Linked DNA regions of Homo sapiens. The main gene of each other region encodes a partner of the protein of the gene in region 3 in a complex. Each region holds a gene or a part of one and is shown on either strand. Other genes may lie near its edges. A codon is read from its position in the direction of its gene.

Region 1 (7,021 bases), on a different chromosome or scaffold from region 3:
TTTCGGAGGCCGAGGCGGGCAGAACACGAGGTCAGGAGATTGAGCCCATCCTGGCTAACACGGTGAAACCCCATCTCTACTAAAAATACAAAAAATTAGCCGGGTGTGGTGGTGGGCACCTGTAGTCCCAGCTACTTGGGAGGCTGAGGCAGGATAATGGCGTGAACCCGGAAGGCAGAGCTTGCAGTGAGCCAACATCACGCCACTGCACTCCAGCCTGGGCGACAGAGAAAGACTCCATATCAAAAAAAAAAAAAAAAAAAAAAGAAAAAAAAAATTCTGCTGGAAATAGACATCAAAGTCAGGAGAAGAAAAAAACATTTGGGGAATGTTTGTTACCAAAGTGTACAGAAATGGTTATATTCGCACTCTGTAAAGAAACACAGTGACTTACTGCTACTTCCTCCCTCTAGTGGGAGTTTTGGAGAATCAACTCAGGGTCTAATTGCTCATATTTTCAAAGTATCACAAGGCTAGGACCACATCTATTTTATTTACTTCTGTACCTTCTATACATAGAACACAGTTGATATTCAATATGTACTTATTAAATGAATGAATAAGGAAATTGGGGCTGGAAGCAGTAGCTCACGCCTGTAATCCCAGCACTTTGGGAAGCTGAAGAGGGAGGATTGCTTCAGCCCAGGAGTTCGAGACCAGCCTGGGCAACATGGAGAAACCCCATCTCTATAAAAAAGTTAAAAAGAAAAAAAACTAGCTGGGTATGGTAGCATATGCCTGTACTCCCAGCTACTCAGGAGGCTGAGGCAGGAGGAGATTGCTTGAGACCAGGAGGTTGAGGCTGCAGTGAGCCATGATCACGCCACTGCACTGGGCGACAGAGCGAGACCCTGTCTCAAAAAACAAACAAAAAAACAAAAACAAACAAAAACAGAAATTGGAAAATTTCCGGCTCTTTAGGGAAGTGACAGCAATGCTTGATATAGTATAAATTCATTAAATCCTTCAAAGCAATATAGAGCAGATTGGCATAACATATATTAGTCATACATCTTGATCTAAGAGAATAAGCTTAGAAATGTATTTATTCTTACCAGGCAGAGAATTAATCTGTCCAGTGTAACAATGTTATACTTCCATACCATGTCATTAAGAATTTCAATGCATTTATTGAGTTGCTGACCCCCTGCTGATGTAGAAAACTCATATACCAGGAAATCTGCAAATGTCCTCACATGGGCTACCAAGGCCCTGGCTCCAATTCTCTCTAATACTCTGGAAGGCAGAGAGTAAAACATAAACTCCATTGTTGTATGGATACAACAATTTGCCAAATGGAATGCAAATTAGGTTTTTGACTTACCTATAGCCAATCTGATTAATATGATCTGTTTCCAAGAGCATTTTCCAGAGAAGACAAAGAAAGAGAGGAGGGGAGCCCTGCATAGAGAAGTGGGTAATAATGTCGTTTTCGTTGCTCATTGACTTCCACTTCCTATACTCCTCCTCCACATTTTTTTTCAGATTAAAACGGCTTTCCTGAGGCACATTATTTTGTTTGAAGAATGCCTAAAAAGAGGATTAGAAGTTTATTTCATTGGTTATAGTAGAAAGAGCACTGGATATGGAGTTAATAAACCAGTTCTAGACTTGATTCTGACACTAATAAACTCTAGGTCACCTTGAGCAACTCAGCAATTAAGGCCTGAATTTCTGTGTCTGGAAAATACATAAGCTTGACTAGATTATCTCCAAGATTCCTTTTCCTAGATTTCCTAAATGGAAATTCTAAGTAAGCCTGAATTCAAAGCTTCTTCAATCATCTGTTGATACTTCCGCCAATCTTAAAAAGAAAAAAAAGAATGAAGTGTCTCTACCCTTTGGCTACATATGTTAGTGTCTTTGAGGAAAATCCATTGCACTAGCCCAGTGATTCTCAGAGTGTGGTCCCAACACCAGCGGTATCAGCATCATCTGGGTCTTACAAGAAATGCAAAATTCTCAGACCTTATCCCAGATTTACTGAATCAGAAGCTCTGTGGCTGGGGGCCCAGCCAACTGCAGCTTAGCAAGCCCTCCAGGTGATTTGGTAAGTTTAAAAACCAAATGCTCTAGCCCTACCAGGAGTTATGAAAAATGGATGTTCATCATGCCTAACATTTTTTCTGAAAAGGAGAAGACAGATGAGGTTTGCCTTTCTCCTTATTAGAAAAGCCAGGTTTACAGTTTTTCTGTGATTAAGAAAAAAATTCAGTGAAGTGTCATATTACGCACACTCTGTGAAGCTCCATTACGTTATACTTCTCCCCATTTCAGTTCTATGAGAGAGAAAAAAGTTTTCAGGTACTATGTTAATTTTCATGAGATTCTAAAACCATTAACTATTTTTTTCTCTTTTTCAATTTTTTTCACTTTTATTTTTTTCCTCTTTCTACTCTTCCTCCCCTTAAAACTGTTAACTAAGATGAAACCATAATAATTAAATTTTTAGAAACATGTCCAGTACCAGAGTAGGACACAGAACAACTTGAGAGATTTTGTAAGTAATGACTTTTTTTTTTTTTTCTACAGACAGGGTCTGGCTCTGTCACCCAGGCTGTGGTACAGTGGTGTGACCATAGTTCCTTGTGAACCTGAATTCCTGGGCTCAAGCCATCCCCCTTGCCTCAGCCTCTCAAGCAGTTAAGACTAGAGGCTTGTGCCACCATGCCCAGCCCCTAAATATTTTTTAAAATAAATAAAAGCTAATTTTATTCAGAAGTCACCAAGACTCACTCTAGAACACCATTGTGAATGGGAAGAAGGATTTCATGTGCATTCAATAAGTAATTCAAGACCAAATTACCTGTAGTGGGCCTGGAAAACAGCTCAGGGTGTGTGAAGCCCAATTATGAGGAGTGAAACTCATGATGGTCTGAAGTATGTCTTTACACCAAGTTCCCTGAATTGAATCAGAGCCTGTAAAAAAATCTAAACATAAACAAATAGATGTAATCCAGATATAAATGATTATATCCACAATTCATAAAAGATTATAGCGAAAATAATAATTATGTACACTGAGAATTTCACTGCAGTGCATTCACTGCTTAACTAGTTATATTCAGCTTAGAACCTAAATTTGCTTAGTTTATGAATGATCTGGATGATCACATTAGAAAATATGAGAACAGTTTATGAAAAGATGACAAAAGACATTTGAAATCTCTTTTTTTGAGGTTACAGAGTACCAGCGATAACAGTAATACAAGCCCATCACTACTGTTCATTTACTTTGACACTGATTTAGTAGTACTTTATTCGGCCAAGGGAACAGAATAAAGAAAGATATCTTTTTTGGTGAGTGAAATAATTACATAATGCATGTATAAATCTCAGAATTGAAGAGGGTTCTTTATGTAAAACAAAATAATTTACATAAACGTATTTGAGGTTGCTAAAACCAATAACTATCTCTTTAAAACATCAGTTCTCAAGTGTGGTCTGTAGACCTCTTGGGGATTCCCCAATAGCCCTTCAAAGATTCAATGAGGTCAAATAATAATAAAAAGATATCAGGCTTTTTCACTTGGTATGAGCACTGACGGTACAAAAGCAATGGTGGTAAAACTGCTGGTCCTAAGCACAAATCAAACAGTGGTGCCAGACTAGATGAAAAGGCTTTGTATTCTCCAGCACATGCACTCAGTGAAAGAAAAGTGCCAGTGTCAATCTCGACACCTATTTTTAACATCATATGTAACAAAAGGGGAAGCATATGCCTAGTGTTCCAAGTTTGATGGGTGTCTTGAGGAAAAACACTTGTGCACTTGTGTGACTGACTGAGCACTGAGTTAAATCAGCTGCTTTTTTTTTTTTGAATTCCAATTTTACTTGAAAGAACGTCTGACAGAAAACTATAGCTAGCTAGACTTACGTATTTAGCAGACATTTTCTTGAAAATTAACAAAATGAGCTTGTCACTTTAAGGAAAACAAATGATAGTAACTTTTTCCAATGATAAAATTTGACCTTTCAAGTAAAAATTGAAATTTTGGAAAACCTGTATCTACCACGACATGATAGCATTCCAAAACTTAGATTTTTCTAATAAACTTTGCAGTGATATTAACAAATGTAATTTTCTGATACTGTATAAACAAAATGTCAACGTTTGCTAGATCTACGTAACTCAGTGAACCAGTATTTTCAAAATGAATAATTCATGAAGTTACAAAACATGCATGGATTTAAAAATCCACTAAATGTATAAAACAGATGTACAGATTATAATGTAACAAAGTACATGAAGTTTACTGGGGGTTTTGGATTCCATATTGCAGCTAACCTTTAAGCAACTATCATTTTTCCATGTGATGTCAAAGAACATTCCCAATTATCTGAAAAAGCTATTAAAATACTCCTCTCTTTCCAACCTCATCTGTGTGAGGCCACATTTTTCACTTACTTCAACTAAAACTTCAATGGATTAAATGTCTAAGCAGATGAGAATCCAAACTATGTCTTCCTTTACACCAGATATTAGAGAAGCAAAAATGTCAAACAATGGCACCTCTTCTCACTAAAGTTTTGCTTTAGAAAATATACTTTTTTTATAACATCATATATTAACATGTAATGTTTATTATTGCTATTTAAAAACAAATTAATAAATATTTTTAAACTTCTTAATTTTAATATCTAATATAATAAATATCCATAGATATAATCCATATAAACAGAAACTCTTTGGGAATTTCAATTTTGTTTTTAAGAGTGTAAAGCAGTCCTGAGACCAAAAAGCTTAAAGTATTACTACTTTAAAATTATGGATAGCTGAAAACGATGCTCAACGCAGTTATTAATAGAATGATGGTACACAAAAGAGCTTCCATAAATGAGTGAAATAGTGAAGATATCAAAACAACAGGCTTTTTTCAAACAAATGAAAAGTATCTTTTTAGTATGTTACAACTATAGTAATTAGTAGAATCATGGCACACTTTAATTCATCTGTTGTTGTTTGTAGTCACATATTCACCGTACCTGTTACATGAGTTGCTCTAGCCAAGGTCAATATCAAGGCTCGGTTCAGTTCTTCAGATTCTGCTGAGAGCACTGTTTTGGGATCACTAAGGAAGCGTGTAAACTGCGGTTGTACCTCTGAGCTACCTAATGCTGTTATAAGCCTGAGAGCAGTGCTCTCGACACTGAAAATTGGGAGAATAAAAAGAAATGTAAAAAAATTTCAGAATTATGGAATTAAATCTAAGGTTAATTACAATGGAAAAACATGCAATCTATGACTATCCCTTCTTTAAAAAAACACTTTTGTGTGAGAATAAATGTTGCTTAATTTGTTTAAAAAACCTAATGTGTCCAATTTTATAGTGAAAATCGTGACTTTTTACACATTTGAAAAAGATGGCTTGTCGCCTATAGGACTAAAAAATTTCACCTGGAGATACTGCATTTCAAAAATTATATTTTTCTATCTAAAATATATTTTAATGTAAAGCAAAATCAATGTGACATGATACTTTAACCATAATCTGAAGTATACTTAAAACCAGCATTCTAAAGGGCTAAGTTACAACATAATAATAAATACCCTGGAAGTACTAATTCTCAGTCCAAAGATCCTGAAGGAAGGACTCAACTATCTTAATCAGTTTCTATTTAAAAAGCTGGACTCTGCTCCTATACTGGAAACAAAATACTTTAGAAGCAGAGAAGTTTTATGACAGATGAATAATAATAAAAAAAAAAACTATAAGGTAAAGGTAAAGGATTAAGAACCTCATCTCCAAGAAAGTTTCTAATAAATCTTAAGGAAAGATGGTCTTCAATGAGCTCACCAAAGATGGAGCTGGTTCTGGTTTGTTTGTGCAACTGCAGCCAAAGTATGAAGATGACTCAGGAGCTGAACTCTGTAATGAGGCTGAATATGATGCATCCGGTAGCTAAACATCTCAAGGAGTGTGTGTAAGATCCCCCATGCATGTGATTTGAAAACAGTTGGCAAAAGCTGACCTGGAGGAAAAAGACAATTTAAGGTACCAATTATTAAAGGCTATGCATGAAAAGATATTTGAAGAAAGTCACATTGAGTAAAATATAAAGATTTGATTGTGAAAATACACACGCCCACACACATATATATTCTCCATATTTTCTTATTTTCTACTTTAACAGTAAGGAAAAATTCAGATCCTAACTATAATATCAAGTTTGCTTTTTTCCTGGGATTTGGCAATTGATAATCATGTTTATCTGGAAAAATAAAATGAGACAAGATATGAAAAAACATTAATCTTCTCAATTCTGATATCTTTTATTTTTAGACAATTAATGTTCCATACCTTTTGAAGTATGAGGTTCACTTTTTAATACAAAAAATTGTATTATACCTGCCCTTGTTTCCTCCTACCCCCAAGAAAGTTTTGTTCAACAATCAGTTATCTAAGAAGAGTTATTGTGGTTAAAATTAAGACTATGCTGTATTCGTGAAAAGCTGGAATTACCATGAATCAGAAAAACACTTCTATATCAGAAAGTATCTATTATTTTAGAACTATATAATAAATGAGACATTATAATGTATCTTCTGCAAGGTAGGAAAATTCCTTCTTTATTTCCAGTCAGACTTCGTATGCACTGGAGGACAGCATTGCTGCCTCAGGCAGAATCCATTTGCATGAGGACAGGGACCAGGTCTATCCTGCTCACTGCATCCCAGGCACCTAGCACATTAACCTTTTCTTACCACTTTACTTAAAAATGCAACAAACCCCCCAACCCTCACACTTCCTATTCCTTTTTGCTTTATTTTTCTCTATAACATGTATCATCTGACATATTGTATATTTCATTTATTTAATGTCCTCCTCCATAAGCTCCATCATGGTGGTGACTTGTTCTCTGCTGTGTCCCCAGGACCTAGAAAAGTAACTTTAGAGTTAATGAATGGGTTAATAGTTATAAACACCAGAAAGTCCTGTCTTACTGATAAATCCTTTGATGCCCAAAGACTCTATTTCCATATAGACCAATAAACGACTGTAAGTTTCCACTAGGGCTG
Region 2 (7,021 bases), on a different chromosome or scaffold from region 3:
TTCACTTGTTTTCCTCTGTGCCATCAGAAACCAATACGAAGATAAAATGGGAAAAAAAAAATCCCATTCACGGCACAGCCTGCCGAGAAACGCGTGAGACCCAGGCGGGGGCTGCGAGGCTAAACCCCAGCGTGGCTGGGATCCGTAGCCAGTGACAGCGCTAGTGATGGCGAGACCTCGCCCTCTCCCTCCTTGGGCCGTCGCTGTGTGCCAAGCGTTTCATTTTTGTTTTTAGTTGTTTCTATTTTTTGTAGAGATGGGGTGTCCTACGTTGCACAGGCTCTCCAACTCCCAGCCTCCAGGAATCCTCCAGCCTCAGCCTCCCAAAATGCTTCAGCTCATTCATTCATTCTCTCTAGACCAGGGTCTCCCCGTAGGCACCACAGACATCGGGGGCTGGAGCAGCCTCTGGGATGGGGGTGTCCTGTTGAGCAGCCTCCCCAGCCTCCACCCGTTACTTGGCAGGGGCACCCCCAGTGGTGACAACTAAAAATATCTCCAGACATCACCAGGGGCCCCCACCAGAGGCAGAGCCGCTCCCAGCTGAGAACCCAGCACCTGGTCCTGTGCGCCTGGTCTTCCGCACCTGTTTTGCCATGAGGTTGCTGAGGTGCAGAGGCGAAGCAGCTTGCCCAGCTGACCGAGCGCCTGGTGTCAGAGTCGAACTGCTCTTCTCCTCAGCTGGAGCCTTGGCGGGCGCCTCTGCTCCGGCCCCTTGGGGTGACCTGGCTTCCTGCCCTCAGGTCCTCTCCACCCGGATCCTGGCCATGAAGGCCTCGCTCTGCAAGCTGTCGCCCTGCACGGTGACCCGCGTGTGCGACTACCACACCAAGCTCTTCCTCATCGCCATCAGCTCCACCCTGAAGTCGCTGCTGCGCCCCCACTTTCTCAACACGCCTGACAAGAGCCCCGGCGACCGGCTGACCGAGATCTGCACCAAGATCACCGACGTCGGTGGGTCCTTTTCCACGCCCGGGGCCTCGAGGTTTCTTTCATCTATTTATTTTATTTTTATTTATTTTTTTTACTCTTTTGAGATAGGGTCTTACTCTGTTGCCCAGGCTGGAGTGCAGTGGTGCGATCTCAGCTCACTGCAGCCTCCGCCTCTCTGGTTCAAGTGATTCTCCTGCCTCAGCCTCCCAAGTAGCTGGGATTACAGGCACGTGCCACCACGCCCGGCTGATTTTTTGTATTTTTAGTAGAGACGGGGTTTCACCATGTTGGCCAGGCTGGTCTCGAACTCTTGACCTCAAATGATCCGCCCGCCTCGGCCTCCTAAAGTGCTGGGATATAGCCTAAAGGCTGGGATTACACCACACCCAGGCTTTTAGAGACGGTCTCACTGTGTCATCCAGGTTGCAGCACGGTGACGCAGTCCCAGCTCAGCGCAGCCTCTGCCTTCTGGGCTCAAGCAATCTCGCCTCAGCCTCTGGAGTAGCTGGGATTACAGACACGTGCCACCACACCCGGTTTTTAATTTTTTGTAGCAACAGGGTCTCACTGTGTTGCCCAGGCTGGTCTTGACCACCTGAGCTCAAGCGATCCTTTCACCTCTCTCTACTCCTGGGGGCTGAGACGCTCCCAGGCCGACACCCGGCACCCGGGTCCTGTGCAGGCAGGTCTGCTCCTCCTTCCGTTTTGCCGTAAGGGGACTGAGGCAGAAAGGCTAAGCAGCTTGCCCAGGCTCACCCAGCACGTGGTGTCCTACTCGCCTCTGCCTCCCAAAGCGCTGGGATTACAGGCGTGAGCCACTGTGCCTGGCAGGCTGTTTCTTTTAAAAATTAGGGTTGCTGGGCGTGGCGACTCGTGTGTAATCCCAGCACTTTGGGAGGCCAACGCGGGCTGATCACGAGGTCAGGAGATCGAGATCATCCTGGCTAACACGGTGAAACCCCGTCTCTACTAAAAATACAAAAATCAGCCGGGCGTGGTGGCGGGCGCCTGTAGTCCCAGCTACTCGGGAGGCTGAGGCAGGAGAATGGCGTGAACCCGGGAGGCGGAGCTTGCAGTGAGCTGAGATCACCCCACTGCACTCCAGCCTGGGCGACAGAGTGAGACTCTGTCTCAAAAAAAAAATTTAGGGTTATCGTTTGTCTGGAGTACCCGGTTGAGTGTGGACACGTGGCACTCCTGGTAGCTGGGAGCCGTGTGCACAGTCATGGTTAGTTCTGTGGGACCACCCTAGTCACCATCCGAGAGGCATCTGTTGGGTGTGTAACCGCCGCCAGCTGCCAGCCGGGGGTGGCTGCAGCTGCACGCTGTGGACATGCCCCTGTGTTCACAGAGTTCACCTCGGAGCAGGGGGCAGATGTGCACCAGCAGGCCGGGCCTGAGCACTGGTGGCCCTGGCATGGGGACCTGCCCACGCCAAGGCCTGCAGGCCGAGAGAAGCTGGTTGGTGCTGAGCACAGCGGCCCCCGGGGGGGGGCAGGCAGTGGGCTCCCAGTTCCTCTCCGTCCGGCAACGCCATCGCCCCCTTCTCGTTCCCGGTGTGGGTCCCCTTGTGTCCTGGTACTGGGTGGGCACTCAGTGCAGGTCGAAGGACCGAGGGGTGCAGTTAGGTCACCCTGTGTGTACAAGAGGCCCGAGCTGACCCGACCCACGTCTCCTTGTAGACATTGACAAGGTCATGATCAACCTCAAGACGGAGGAATTTGTGCTGGACATGAACACACTGCAGGCGCTGCAGCAGCTCTTGCAGTGGGTGGGCGACTTCGTGCTGTACCTGCTGGCCAGCCTACCCAACCAGGTGCGCCATGCTCTCCCCTAAGGCCCCGCCCCCCACCTGGGCCCCCATCTCATCAGGACCCCGCTTCCCTGCCCCTGCCCCTCAAAACCACCTCAGCCCCGCCCCTAGTTGGAGTCCCGCCCCTACTTGGAGTCCCGCCCCTACTTGGAGTCCCGCCCCTGCTTGGAGTCCCACCTCAGCCCCGCCCCTGGTTGGAGTCCCACCCCTACTTGGAGTCCCACTTCCTGAGTCTGTCTCTTCTTAAACCCCCACTTCCTAGCCCTGCCCCACTTCCTAGCCCTGCCCCACTTCCTAGCCCTGCCCCACCTCGGAGCCCTGCCCCATCTCGGAGCCCTGCCCCACCTCGGAGCCCTCCCCCACCTCGGAGCCCTCCCCCACCTCGGAGCCCTGCCCCACCTCGGAGCCCTGCCCCACCTCGGAGCCCTGCCCCACCTCGGAGCCCTCCCCCACCTCGGAGCCCTCCCCCACCTCGGAGCCCTGCCCCACCTCGGAGCCCTCCCCCACCTCGGAGCCCTCCTCTCCATGAAGCCTCTGCTGTAAGAAGCCTTTCCTTGGCCACACCCTTCCTGCCCATTCTCAAAGCCCCGCCTCCCAGGCCCTGCTCCTTCTCAGCCCCACCCCTACACGAAGGCCGGTTCGCCTTGCTTCTGCTGCTGCTGCCCCCACCCCTTACCCTCCCCAGCTCCCTGCGCCTGGGGTGGGCGGCCTTGAAATCAAGTCTCCATCCACACCTCCACCTTCAGTTCTGCGGCTTGTGCGCCCCTGACCAGGGCTCCAACCTCGCCCCCACCCCCCCGCCGGTACACTCTGTCCTGCCCCAGCTGTGATTTCTTCTGCCCCACCCACCCGGCTTCATCCTGCCCTGGGGCCCGCCCTTCTCCACCGCGCCCATCACGGACGGTTTGAAGTCCCTCTCTTCTTTTTGTGGGGCTTTAGGCTGCCAGGGGCCACCCCTGGGGCCTCCCTTCCCTGGTCCTCTCAGCTCCCAGTACAGTCACCAGGGGCCCGGGCCCGCAGCTGTAGGAGGGGGCGGCTGCTCCTCCACGTGCAGGTGGGGATATTGGCCTCAGCCAGAGCCTCGTCTTAGTCTTGTGGACTCTCAGGGATGGGACGACTCTGCAAATGGGGCTGTCCTGGGCCCTGCAGGGCTCTGAGCAGCGTCCCCGGCATCCACCCACTCGGTGCCAGAAGCACCCCAGTCCTGACCACCACAAATGTCCCAGACCCTGCCCATTGCCCCCCGGTCGGGGTTCCACCGACCCCAAGACACTTCATCCCATCGCCATCTGCCCCCCGCCGCCCCAGCCACACCGATGCCTCTTTCGGGCAGGGTTCCCTGCTGAGGCCGGGCCACAGCTTTCTGCGGGACGGCACCTCGCTGGGCATGCTTCGGGAATTGATGGTGGTCATCCGCATCTGGGGCCTTCTGAAGCCCAGCTGCCTGCCCGTGTATACGGCCACCTCGGATACCCAGGACAGCATGTCCCTGCTCTTCCGCCTGCTCACCAAGCTCTGGATCTGCTGTGAGGCACCCCCGCCCGCCCCTCCCCTCTCCCCGCTCCCCGCTCTCCCCTCTCCCCGCTCCCCGCTCCCCGCTCTCCCCTCTCCCCGCTCTCCCCTCTCCCCGCTCTCCCCTCTCCCCGCTCTCCCTTCTCCCCGCTCTCCCCTCTCCCCTCTCCCCGCTCCCCTCTCCCTACCAAAACACAAGTCCTGCCTGAGCCCCCCGCCAGAACATAAGCCCCTGCAGGTGGCAGTGGCTCTGCCTTGATATCTGCTATTTCCCCAGTTCCTAGCACAGGTCCATGCTCTGTGTGGGTGCTTTTGGGATGGCAGCCACTTCCAGGCACCTGTTTGCTGTCTCTCCTTGTCGGGTTGTGTGTATGTGAGGAGGGTGAGCTGTGTCATTCTTACATCCCAGTGTCTGGAAAAGGCACAGTGCTTCCCACATACTTTTTAAGTGAATGAGGGAGTCTCATGACAGGCCAGAGACGGGGAGAGAACTCTGGGGTCACCCAGCCAGGCAGGCAGAGCCGGGGCCCCGACCTGGTGAGAGAACCCCGGGGTCACCCAGCCAGGCAGACAGAGCTGGGGCCCTGACCTGGTGCTCCTGAACTGGAGGGGCTCCCAGCACGTCCCGGGTGGCCGGGCGGTGCCCCAGTCAGGGGTGCTGAGACTTCCGCCACCTCTCTCCGCAGGTCGCGATGAGGGCCCAGCGAGCGAGCCGGACGAGGCGCTGGTGGATGAATGCTGCCTGCTGCCCAGCCAGCTGCTTATCCCCAGCCTGGACTGGCTGCCAGCCAGCGACGGCCTGGTTAGCCGCCTGCAGCCCAAGCAGCCCCTTCGTCTGCAGTTTGGCCGGGCGCCCACGCTGCCTGGCAGTGCTGCCACCCTGCAGCTCGACGGCCTCGCCAGGTGCGTGTGTCCCTGCATTGGTCCCCAAACACAGGACTCCTTCCTCCGTGTCCTGCCCCGGGACCCCCGAATCCACACGGCTCCCTCCCTGCATGTCCTGCCCCAGGTCCCCCCGAATCCACACGGCTCCCCGCCTCCATGTCCTGCCCGGGACCCCCCGAATCCACACGGCTCCCTCCCTCCATGTCCTGCCCCGGGACCCCCCGAATCCACACGGCTCCCTCCCTCCATGTCCTGCCCCGGGTCCCCCCGAATCCACACGGCTCCCTCCCTCCATGTCCTGCCCCAGGACCCCCCCGAATCCATACGGCTCCTTCCCTCCATGTTCTCCAGTCATGGCCATGACTGCTGCTTCCTTCTAGGTGCCCCTAACTCCATCCCCTAGTGGTGTCTTCTGCTGTGTCACGAACCACCCCCAACACGGGCACCCAGCCCTTCCATTCACCCTCTCCCTTTTTTTTTTTTTTTTTGTCTCCCCGACAGGGTCTCACTCTGTTGCCCAGGCTGGAGTGCAGTAGTGCCGTCTTGGCCCACTGCAACGTCTGCCTCTCGGGTTCAAATGATTCTCCTACCTCAGCCTTCCCAGTAGCTGGGATTACAGGCATGAGCCACCACACCTAGGTATTTTTTGTATTTTTGGTATAGAGGCGGTTTTGCAATGTTGGCCAGGCTGGTCTTGAACTCCTGACCTCAGGTGATCCACCTGCCTCGCCCTCCCAAAGTGCTGGGATTACAGGTGTGAGCCACCGCCCCGGCCTTGCCTTGGTGTTTCCTGATTGTGTGTTGGCCTCGCTGTACAGGGCGCCCTGCCTTAGCCTCTGCCCTTAGTCTCTGGCCCCCCTGGATGTCAGGCCTCGCCGTAGATCCCTCTGTGGATGGAGAGAGACGCCTTAGCATATGGCCCAGGGCCCTGCTGAGCAGACACCTCATCAGGAGGATCTCCCGGGGGCAAGAGGTCACCTTGCAGGGCCCGGGGCTGGCCTTTCTCTGGAATGTGCGGGGTTTGGGCAACCCAAGTGTGCTGAGCTGACCCTGGCTGCCCAGCAGCCCTGTGAGGTGGGACCTTGTCACCCCATTTCACGGTGAGGAAACCCAGCCTGGAAAGGGTGGGACCTTGTCACCCCACTCATCTGGGGTCACGCGGTCAGGAAGTGGCCGAGTCAGGATTTGAACCCAGGCCCGTCAGACCCCCAGCCTGTTTCAGACACACGTTTGACAAGGAGCACATGCAAACCCTCTGAGCCACTGATTGCTCAGGGCTGGAATTTTAGAAAACACAGATGAGCAAAAGGAAGAAAATGAAGTGAACCTCCAGCAGCCCTGCTCCGGGGAAGGCCCCGGCTCGGCTCCAGGACCTCCAGGGAAGGCACCCCCGGCTTGGCTCCGGGACCTCCGGGAAGGCGCCCTGGCTTGGCTCTAGGACCTCCAGCATTTTCTTCCTCGTGCTCACTGTGGGAGGGGCCTCCTAATGAGTCACACACGAGGGTTTGGGTTTCAGGAAAAGACTTGATGGAAAGAGAGGACGGTTACGTCAGAGGCTTGTAAACTGGGAAAATTTCAGATATTTAATGAGAGCAGAATAAGCCGGCCCACCCCCACCCAGACCCAGGTCCCCCACCCACCACCGAGGGCAGCTTTTGCCACCAGAATCTTGTCGTTCAGAGGTCCCGGCACCTCCAGGCCGGGTGTCTGGGCAGAGGTGGTGTGGAAGTCCCCATGTACCTGCTTCTGTCCAGCCTCAAATGGGAGCGTCACAAGCACCTTCCCTGCACCTCAGGCTCCCCGGGCACGTGGCGGACCGACCCTCGTCCCTGTGTGGGCCCCGTCCCCTTTACTGGGTCTCTAAGCCTCAAGCTCCCC
Region 3 (7,021 bases):
CACCACCCTGGGGGAGGGCCGAGAGAACCTGAGGCTCAGGTGCCACTGTAGGGTGGGGAGGGAGAGGAGGGAACACCCATGCCAGACTTTCCCTTGGACTTAGGTTACGGAAATCTCCCTGAGGCATTAACCCAGTTTTGCGCTGGGGGACGGTATACCCCGGGGTGACCTGGCCCCTGCTCTGCTCCTGGCAGGTCTCTCACCTGCAGGACACAAAGCCTATAAATAGGGACTGGGGAGGGACTTTCCTCCCCCTGGCCATTCCAGCCAGATATTCACATTTTCTTTTATTCTCCAACTTCCCCCATCCCCCAGGCCTGGGCCCTGCCAACCTGCCACATAAATAAACACAATCACTTCCCCCTAGGCTGAGTGCTTGGGGGTCCCCGCCCAGCCCTGGCCTCCTCCCAAAGTAAACTGTTCCTTCCAGGAGAGGCCCAAGGGCTGCCCCACAGGACTCTTCCCGGCCCCTGGTAGCTGGGCAGATAGAAGTGTATATCCAGGAATTTTCTCATGGAAAGAGGCTTCGGAAGTGAATACAGACCCGGGCCGAGTGCTGACTGTTCCTGGAATGCAGGGTGGCTCTGGGAAAGTTGCTATGACCTTTAGAGCCACTTTTCCCACCTGCACAATGGAGCCACAGACTTCTCACTACCCCTTACCCAGATAGGATTTAGGGTGCTTAGAATGGGTTACACCAGAGCAAAAGCTCCCTACTTGGTAGGGCGGGGGGGAAGGTGGTGGAGAAATGAGAGAAGAAAGGAAAAAAGGAGGAGGCAAGGGGAAAACGAGATGTGCTTTTCCAGACCGTCCAAACCTCATTCAGCTCAATGCTTCCCCTTCTCCCTATTAAGACATCCTCAGGCCCGGTGCGGTGGCTCATGCCTATAATCCCAGCACTTCAGGAGGCTGAGGCGGGAAGATCACCTGAAATCAGGAGTTCGAGACCAGCCTGGCCAACATGGTGAAACCCCATCTCTACCAAAAATACAAAAATTAGCCGGGTGTGGTGGCACATGCCTGTAATCCCGGCTACTCGGGAGGCTGAGGCAGGAGAATCTCTTGAACCCAGGAGGCGGAGATTGCAGTGAGCCTAGATAGTGCCACAGCACTCCAGCCTGGGTGACAGAGCGAAACGCCGTCTCAAAAATAAGTACATAAATAAATAAATAAAGACATCCTCAACGTTGCCATAAAGACATGGCAACACCCAAAACGTATTAGCTGGTAAACACCCATGTTCACAGCAGCACTATTCACTATAGCCCAAAGGTGGAAGCAACTGAAGTGTCCACTGACAGAGGAGGGATCAAGATGTGGTATAGCCACACAATAGAGGTTTCTTTTGTTTTTGTTTTGTTTTTTGAGACAGAGTCTCACTCTTTCACCCAGGCTGGAGTGCAGTGGCGTGATCTCGGCTCACTGCAACCTCCGCTTCCTGGGTTCAAGCAATTCTCCTGTCTCAGCCTCCCAAGTAGCTGGGATTGCAGGCGCCTGCCACCACTCCCTGCTCATTTTTATATTTTTAGTAAGGCCAAGGTTTCACCATGTTGGTCAGGCTGGCCTTAAACTCCTGACCTCAAGTGAGCCACTCACCTCAGCCTCCCAAAGTGCTAGGATTGCAGGCGTGAGCCACCACGCCCGGCCCACAACAGAGTATTATTCAGCCTTAAAAAGGAAGGAATTCCTGTCACGTGCTACTACATGGATGAGCTTTGAGGACACCATGCTGAGTGAAGTCAGTGAGTCACGAAAAGGCAAGGACTGTATGATTCCAGTTAAATGAGGCATCTAAAAAGTAGTCAAATTCAGCAGGGCACGGTGGGTCACGCCTGTAATCCCAGCACTTTGGGAGACCACGGTGAGAGGATCACTCAAGGCCAGGAGTTCAAGACCTGGCAATATAGTGAGACCCTGTCTCTACAAAGACTAGAAAAATTAGCCGGCTGTGGGCCTGCAGTCCCAGCTACTCGGGAGGCTGAGGCGAGAGGATCACTTGAGCCCAGGAATTTGAGGTTGCAGTGAGACTCACTCTGATCTGGGCAAGGGTAAGACCTTGTCTCAACAACAACAACAACAAAAAGTATAAAGTAGTCAAATTCCTAGACACACAAAGTAAAATGGTAGTTACCAGGAGCTGGAGGGAGGGGAAAATAGGAAGCTGTTGTTCAGTGGGTATGGAGTTTCAGAGATGCAAGAAAGTTCTGGAGACCTGTTACACAACAGTGTGAATATACTTAACACTACTGAACAGTACACTTAAACATGGCTAAGATGGCAAATCTTATGTGTTTTTTACAATTAAAAAAAGCAAACAACTTATTGGTTGGGTGAATGAACTCAACGTAACTGGTCACCAGGGAAGTCCTCCAAGCCCCTGAAGAGCCAGGGCAGGAAACTGTCCTAAGAGGTAACTGAGGGTGGGGCATGGCCTGTAAAATCTACAGACAGGTTCCTAGCTCCTAGACAGTCACACAGCTTTGTTCTTTTGGGAGCTAGTTGTCTAGAACTTGAGTCTCTGCGGGCAGACCCTGTTTAGGGTCTGCATTTCTGACAACACAGCAGGTGCTGGCATATAAACGCTTCTGCCACAGAGACACAGTACATGTTTGCTGAGTCAGATGAGTGAATGCATGAATAGGAAAGTGAGTGAGTGATCAAGTAGCGTGTTTGCGAAGGTCAGAAAAGAGAGGGGTGCTTGTTATTGGATGTGCTGACTTCTCACAACACACTTGAAGGGTCTGAGAAGGGAAGGCAGGTTACCGACCTCTCATTGTAGAACTGCAGGGTGTTCTCACTAAACAGTGGCCCTGCCAGCTGGCGGATCATCTGCAGCGACTTCTCACGCTCATCCAGCCCCAGCATCCGGACGTGGGCCACAAGCCAAGCCACAGCACACACCGCCAGACTGCATACCTTCCCTTTGATGTTATCAGTGATTTTCTAGGGGAGACGGAAAGGTGATGGGCTACCATCTATCTCCCTTTCTTGAGCCAACATCACCTTCTCAGCCTCTGCGGGCAGCTAAGTGCAGCGGGTGGAGTCCCGGGCCACATTCCACACCTCTCTCCACAAGTTTGATCTTCCCAGAGCTACCTGGGCCAGAGGGAGTAGCTAAGACAACGATTACACAAAATATCAATATCAAAACATGAGCTCCTGGATTAAAGGTCTTCTTGCCCTTACGAAATATAACAAGTCATCACTGGCTGGCTCTGTGTCTCAGGGGAGCAAACGCTGCTGGGAAGGCGGGGCTACCTGGATGGACTCGAAGGCCAGGACCCCATTCTCCCAGGCATTGAGGATTTCCAAGATGGCGGCTGAGATGCTGAGACAGGCCTCATGCCACTTCATCTGCCTGCGGGTGTGCAGAGAAGTCAGCACAGGGGAGCAAGGAACGGGCTCAGGGAGCGGGTCTTGACCCTGCCCCCACCGCCACCCTTGGAGTGGGCGCCCGGGCCACTGACACTAGCTTCATCTCCGAGGAGTTGTTGAGCAGGGCCACCAGGGACTCCACTTTGGTGGAGTCGGGGCGGAAGCAGGGGTGGTCAGGGTTCAGGATCTTGCCCTCCTCAGGCATGCAGGTCTGCATCCAGGTCTCGAAGAAGGGCACCTCAGCTCCTGTGCGCGACTCGGACAGAATCACCTGGGAAAGGGGAAGGGGGGCACCAGCCGAGTGGGGAGGGCGCGGCGCCTGCCAGCGCTGGACCTGGGGCTGCACTGTTTCCCGCCAGGCTGCTGCTCCAGCCCAGCCCAAAGACTGGGGACGAACTGGTCTAAGGGAGCCAGACGGGGGCAATGCTGCCACCTAGTGGTCAATGTGAACATAGGGCTGAAGGTGCCTCTACGGACTCCAGCCCGGGTGGGCACCTGGTTTCTGAGGCCCACAGAACTAACTGGCTGAGAGGCTGCGGGGGCGCAGGCAGTGAGGTGGGGAGAGTTCCGGGTTACCTCCTTCCCTTGAGCCCCCGTCCCGGTCGCTCCCCTCTCTCACCTCTGAACCATAGGTCTGGGCCACATGGCACAGCATGAGGAAGGAGATGTCAAACAGCAGGGCCCGGACGGAGGCCGGTTTGGCTGTGGAAGGACGGGAAGGCTGAGCTCCCAGACGAGGGCAGGGGGGAGCCCGTGTCTGGGTTGACAGGGATCGGGATTTGCCTCTAGGAAGGTCAGGGACCAAGTGGCTCCTTCAAAGCTCTGAGGCTCAGAATCCTTTTCTTGAGTCTCAACTGGAACATCATCCCTTCCTTGAGACCAAAGACCCCCAGCACCCTCTCCTGGCATACCTAACCAAGTCGTAAAGGGATGAGGGGGGGAAGGAGACACAGGGATGGTCTGGGAAGAATCCTTTTCCAGCATTATCCACTTTCAAGCTCTGTGGAAGCTTCCATTGGTCATGGCTCTGAGGAGGGAGCACAGCCTCCCCCTGTTGAGCTGGGGAGCCCTCCTCCCTCCCACACTCTCCCGCCACACCCCTCCTCAGGGCCCACTGGGCCTGCGGATGCACAGGGCTGACTTACTGCTTTCTTCGCTGCCATAGGTTGTGAATTCATTCAAACTGAAAGGAATGGAGACAGGCTGCATTGACCAGGGCATGAGCTGAGCAGTAGCTGGGCGCTGGGGCTACACATGTTCAGAGAGCGATAGCTAGAGTCTGAGTTACTGGTTAAACTTAAAATGAGACACATTGCTATAGAAAAAAGGTTTTTGTGGTTTTTGTTTTTTGTTTTTTTTTTGTTTTTTTTGAGAAAGAGTCTCGCTCTGTCACCCAGGCTGGAGTGCAGTGGCACAATCTCAGCTCACTGCAACCTCCGCCTCTGTTCAAGCAATTCTTCTGCCTCAGTCTCCCAAGTAGCTGGGATTACAGGTGCCCGCCACCACACCCGGCTAATTTTTTGTATTTTTAGTAGAGACAGGGTTTCACCAAGTTGGCCAGGCCGGTCTTGAACTCCTGACCTCAGGTGATCCGCCCACCTTGGCCTCCCTAAGTGCTAGGATTACAGGCGTGAGCCACCGCACCCGGCCAGAAGGATTTTTATTGTTAGAAGATTTCCAAGGCCTAGAGAATGGCTCACTGAATGGAACCATGTTCTATATATGTCAAATTCCAGGGCAATCAAAAAAGGCAACAGAATTTGAGAGCCCCTTATTAATAACTGGGCATACTTGGAATTCCTCCATGCCCAATGTTCAACACCTCAACCCTTACCCTCATCTCTTTACCAAACATGTCCACTCCATCCTCAGCTGAAGAGAAAGGAACACTTAGGTCGTGAGAACAGGCCCTTCCTCCAAGATCTCCAGCCAGGATGCTCTGCCTAGGCCCGTGGGTCTCTGGATGAGACCCAGACCCAGGCACCTGACTCCTACCCTGCTACCTCCTCCCAACGCGCAGCCTCCCTGCACGCCCTGGGGTCAGGGGCTTGGCCTTCCTCACTTGATGAATTTCCGGGCGAAGGATTTCAGCTTTCCAGTGGCGGCGGCGGCAGCCAGCAGCAAGTCCAGACTCTTCCCGGACAGCATGTGGCCCAGGACTCCCAGCAGTCCCTCCGGTGACTTAGAGTGGTCTGCATCCATCGTCTGGGGACAGGACAGGAAATCAAGTCCTGAAGAACACTGAAGACCCCCCACCCAAGATACAGCCTAGCCACATTTTCTCTCTTCACAACCTGGAATGTAATCTACATCTTTCTGACTTCAATCTGGAAAATCATTCCTAAAACCCACCCCTGCTCTCCGATCCATCCCTCTCATCTACACTGGCATGCAGGTGGTAAGGTTGGAGTGGGCAAGGTCACGGCTAGGATCTTCTCTGTCCTTTCCTTTTTTAGACAGAGTCTCGCTCTATCGCTGAGGCTGGAGTGCAGTGGTGCGATCTTGGCTCACTGCAACCTCTGCCCCCCAGGGTTCAGCGATTCTCCTGCCTCAGCCTCCCAAGTAACTGGGATTACAGGCATGCACCACCACACCCAGTGAATTTTGTGTTTTTAGTAGAGACTGGGTTTCACCACGCTGGCCAAGCTGGTCTCAAACTCCTGACCTCAAGGGATCTTCCCACCTCAGCCTCCCAAAATGCTGGGATTACAGGCGTGAGCCACCGCACCCACGTCTCTGTTGTTTCCATGTGAGATGGCCTAAGTGAAAGCGCCTACTGCAGTGCCTGGTGTACAAATGAAGCTCCCACGGGTTAGCATTCAGTGGTAGCTGCCCTTGCCTCCCCTTTCACTACCTCCAAAGCAACTATGTATAAAAGCTAAAGGAGACAGAGGTCTGTGGCCTCTGTTTATTTATCTGCAAGCAGATGGAGCACTGGAAAGAAGAAAGAGAAGACTGTGGTGGCCAGGGAAGGGCACACTCACCTTGAGGATGTTTGTGACAGTGGGCTCCGCCCGGAGGATCAGCTGGATGTTGGGCTGGATGTTGGCATTCTCTCCCGATTTCTGCTGGGGTGCGTGCTCTCGGTCCGCTTTGCTGTGGACATCACCAGTTGGCCAAGGAAGGGAAGAGGAATGAAGAGAAATTCTTGACACGTTCCCTCGTTCAAGCCCGGAAGGAAATGCGCAGAGGAGGTGGGAAGCATGTAAGAACCTCCGAGGTTGGGGTGAAGTTTATGGAAGCATAGTCAATGTTGCAATCACTGATTTAGCATTAGTCTTTTTTTTTGAGACAGGTCTCACTCTGTTGCCCAGGCTGGAGTACAGTGGCACGATCTCGGCTCACTGCAGCCTCTGCCTCCAGAGTAGCTGGGCGCTCACCACCACGCCTGGCTACTTTTTTGTATTTTTAGTAGAGACGGGGTTTCACCATGTTCTACTGGTCTCAAACTCCTGACCTCAGGTGATCCACCCACCTTGGCTTCCCAAAGTCCTGGGATTACAGGTGAGCCAGCACACCTGGCAATTTATCATTAGTCTTTTTTTTTTTTGAGACAGAGTCTCGCTCTGTCACCCAGGCTGGAATGCAGTGGCGCGATCTCAGCTCAGTACAACCTCTGCTTTCCGGGTTCAAGTGATTCTCCTGC

Evidence for each region. Proteins that work in one complex are often made in the same cells at the same time.
Region 1: the proteins of MED24 (region 3) and MED23 are in contact, whole or in part, in a cryo-EM structure (PDB 7EMF), measured with the Homo sapiens proteins. Residues at the interface, in NP_055630.2 of Homo sapiens: Lys238, Thr239, Leu280, Leu283, Lys287, Val291, Glu295, Cys336, Glu339, Phe340, Lys343, Leu344, Thr345, Pro346, Leu347, Asp349, Lys350, Gln353, Lys384, Glu720, Lys721, Trp723, Thr756, Arg757, Lys758, Glu759, His760, Met802, Asp803, Pro804; in NP_004821.2 of Homo sapiens: Asn150, Thr151, Val152, Ser153, Ser154, Glu193, Gly194, Leu196, Pro197, Trp199, Leu201, Gly202, Asn203, Ser206, Asp207, Asp210, Arg213, Tyr258, Asp259, Lys260, Phe263, Ser1133, Arg1139, Ser1176, Glu1180, Glu1182, Trp1183, Val1184, Tyr1186, Arg1189.
Region 2: the proteins of MED24 (region 3) and MED16 are in contact, whole or in part, in a cryo-EM structure (PDB 7EMF), measured with the Homo sapiens proteins. Residues at the interface, in NP_055630.2 of Homo sapiens: Ile539 (codon at 3,562), Leu540 (codon at 3,559), Asn541 (codon at 3,556), His544 (codon at 3,547), Pro545 (codon at 3,544), Glu593 (codon at 3,291), Arg629 (codon at 2,868), Met630 (codon at 2,865), Leu631 (codon at 2,862), Gly632 (codon at 2,859), Leu633 (codon at 2,856), Asp634 (codon at 2,853), Glu635 (codon at 2,850), Asp676, Gln679, Gln680, Thr681, Ala682, Pro702, Pro703, Lys704, Arg705, Pro706, Ile707, Lys708, Glu709, His737, Met738, Gly739, Gly740; in NP_005472.2 of Homo sapiens: His29, Cys30, Pro31, Ser32, Arg52, Asp54, Asp55, Gln56, Glu82, Asp102, Val126, Glu127, Gly128, Asp129, Pro130, Val184, Ser185, Leu187, Thr203, Glu204, Ser205, Cys207, Arg208, Leu209, Arg210, Gly211, Arg212, Asp232, Gly233, Ser234.

The regions. Positions count from the first base shown.
Region 1 is NC_000006.12:131,597,232-131,604,252, forward strand, and holds part of MED23 (mediator of RNA polymerase II transcription subunit 23), read right to left. Parts: coding exon 6,947-7,021; intron 5,974-6,946; coding exon 5,799-5,973; intron 5,151-5,798; coding exon 4,987-5,150; intron 2,932-4,986; coding exon 2,807-2,931; intron 2,280-2,806; coding exon of another isoform or gene 2,274-2,279; exon of another isoform or gene 2,236-2,273; intron 1,531-2,235; coding exon 1,325-1,530; intron 1,237-1,324; coding exon 1,056-1,236; intron 1-1,055. UniProt on the Homo sapiens protein: Required for transcriptional activation subsequent to the assembly of the pre-initiation complex. Component of the Mediator complex, a coactivator involved in the regulated transcription of nearly all RNA polymerase II-dependent genes.
Region 2 is NC_000019.10:869,177-876,197, reverse strand, and holds part of MED16 (mediator of RNA polymerase II transcription subunit 16), read left to right. Parts: intron 1-743; coding exon 744-954; intron 955-2,615; coding exon 2,616-2,749; intron 2,750-4,079; coding exon 4,080-4,272; intron 4,273-4,944; coding exon 4,945-5,161; intron 5,162-7,021. UniProt on the Homo sapiens protein: Component of the Mediator complex, a coactivator involved in the regulated transcription of nearly all RNA polymerase II-dependent genes.
Region 3 is NC_000017.11:40,023,389-40,030,409, forward strand, and holds part of MED24 (mediator of RNA polymerase II transcription subunit 24), read right to left. Parts: intron 6,472-7,021; coding exon 6,360-6,471; intron 5,581-6,359; coding exon 5,438-5,580; intron 4,559-5,437; coding exon 4,521-4,558; intron 4,258-4,520; exon of another isoform or gene 4,154-4,257; intron 4,078-4,153; coding exon 3,995-4,077; intron 3,647-3,994; coding exon 3,468-3,646; intron 3,359-3,467; coding exon 3,259-3,358; intron 3,022-3,258; exon of another isoform or gene 2,944-3,021; coding exon 2,768-2,943; intron 8-2,767; coding exon 1-7. UniProt on the Homo sapiens protein: Component of the Mediator complex, a coactivator involved in the regulated transcription of nearly all RNA polymerase II-dependent genes.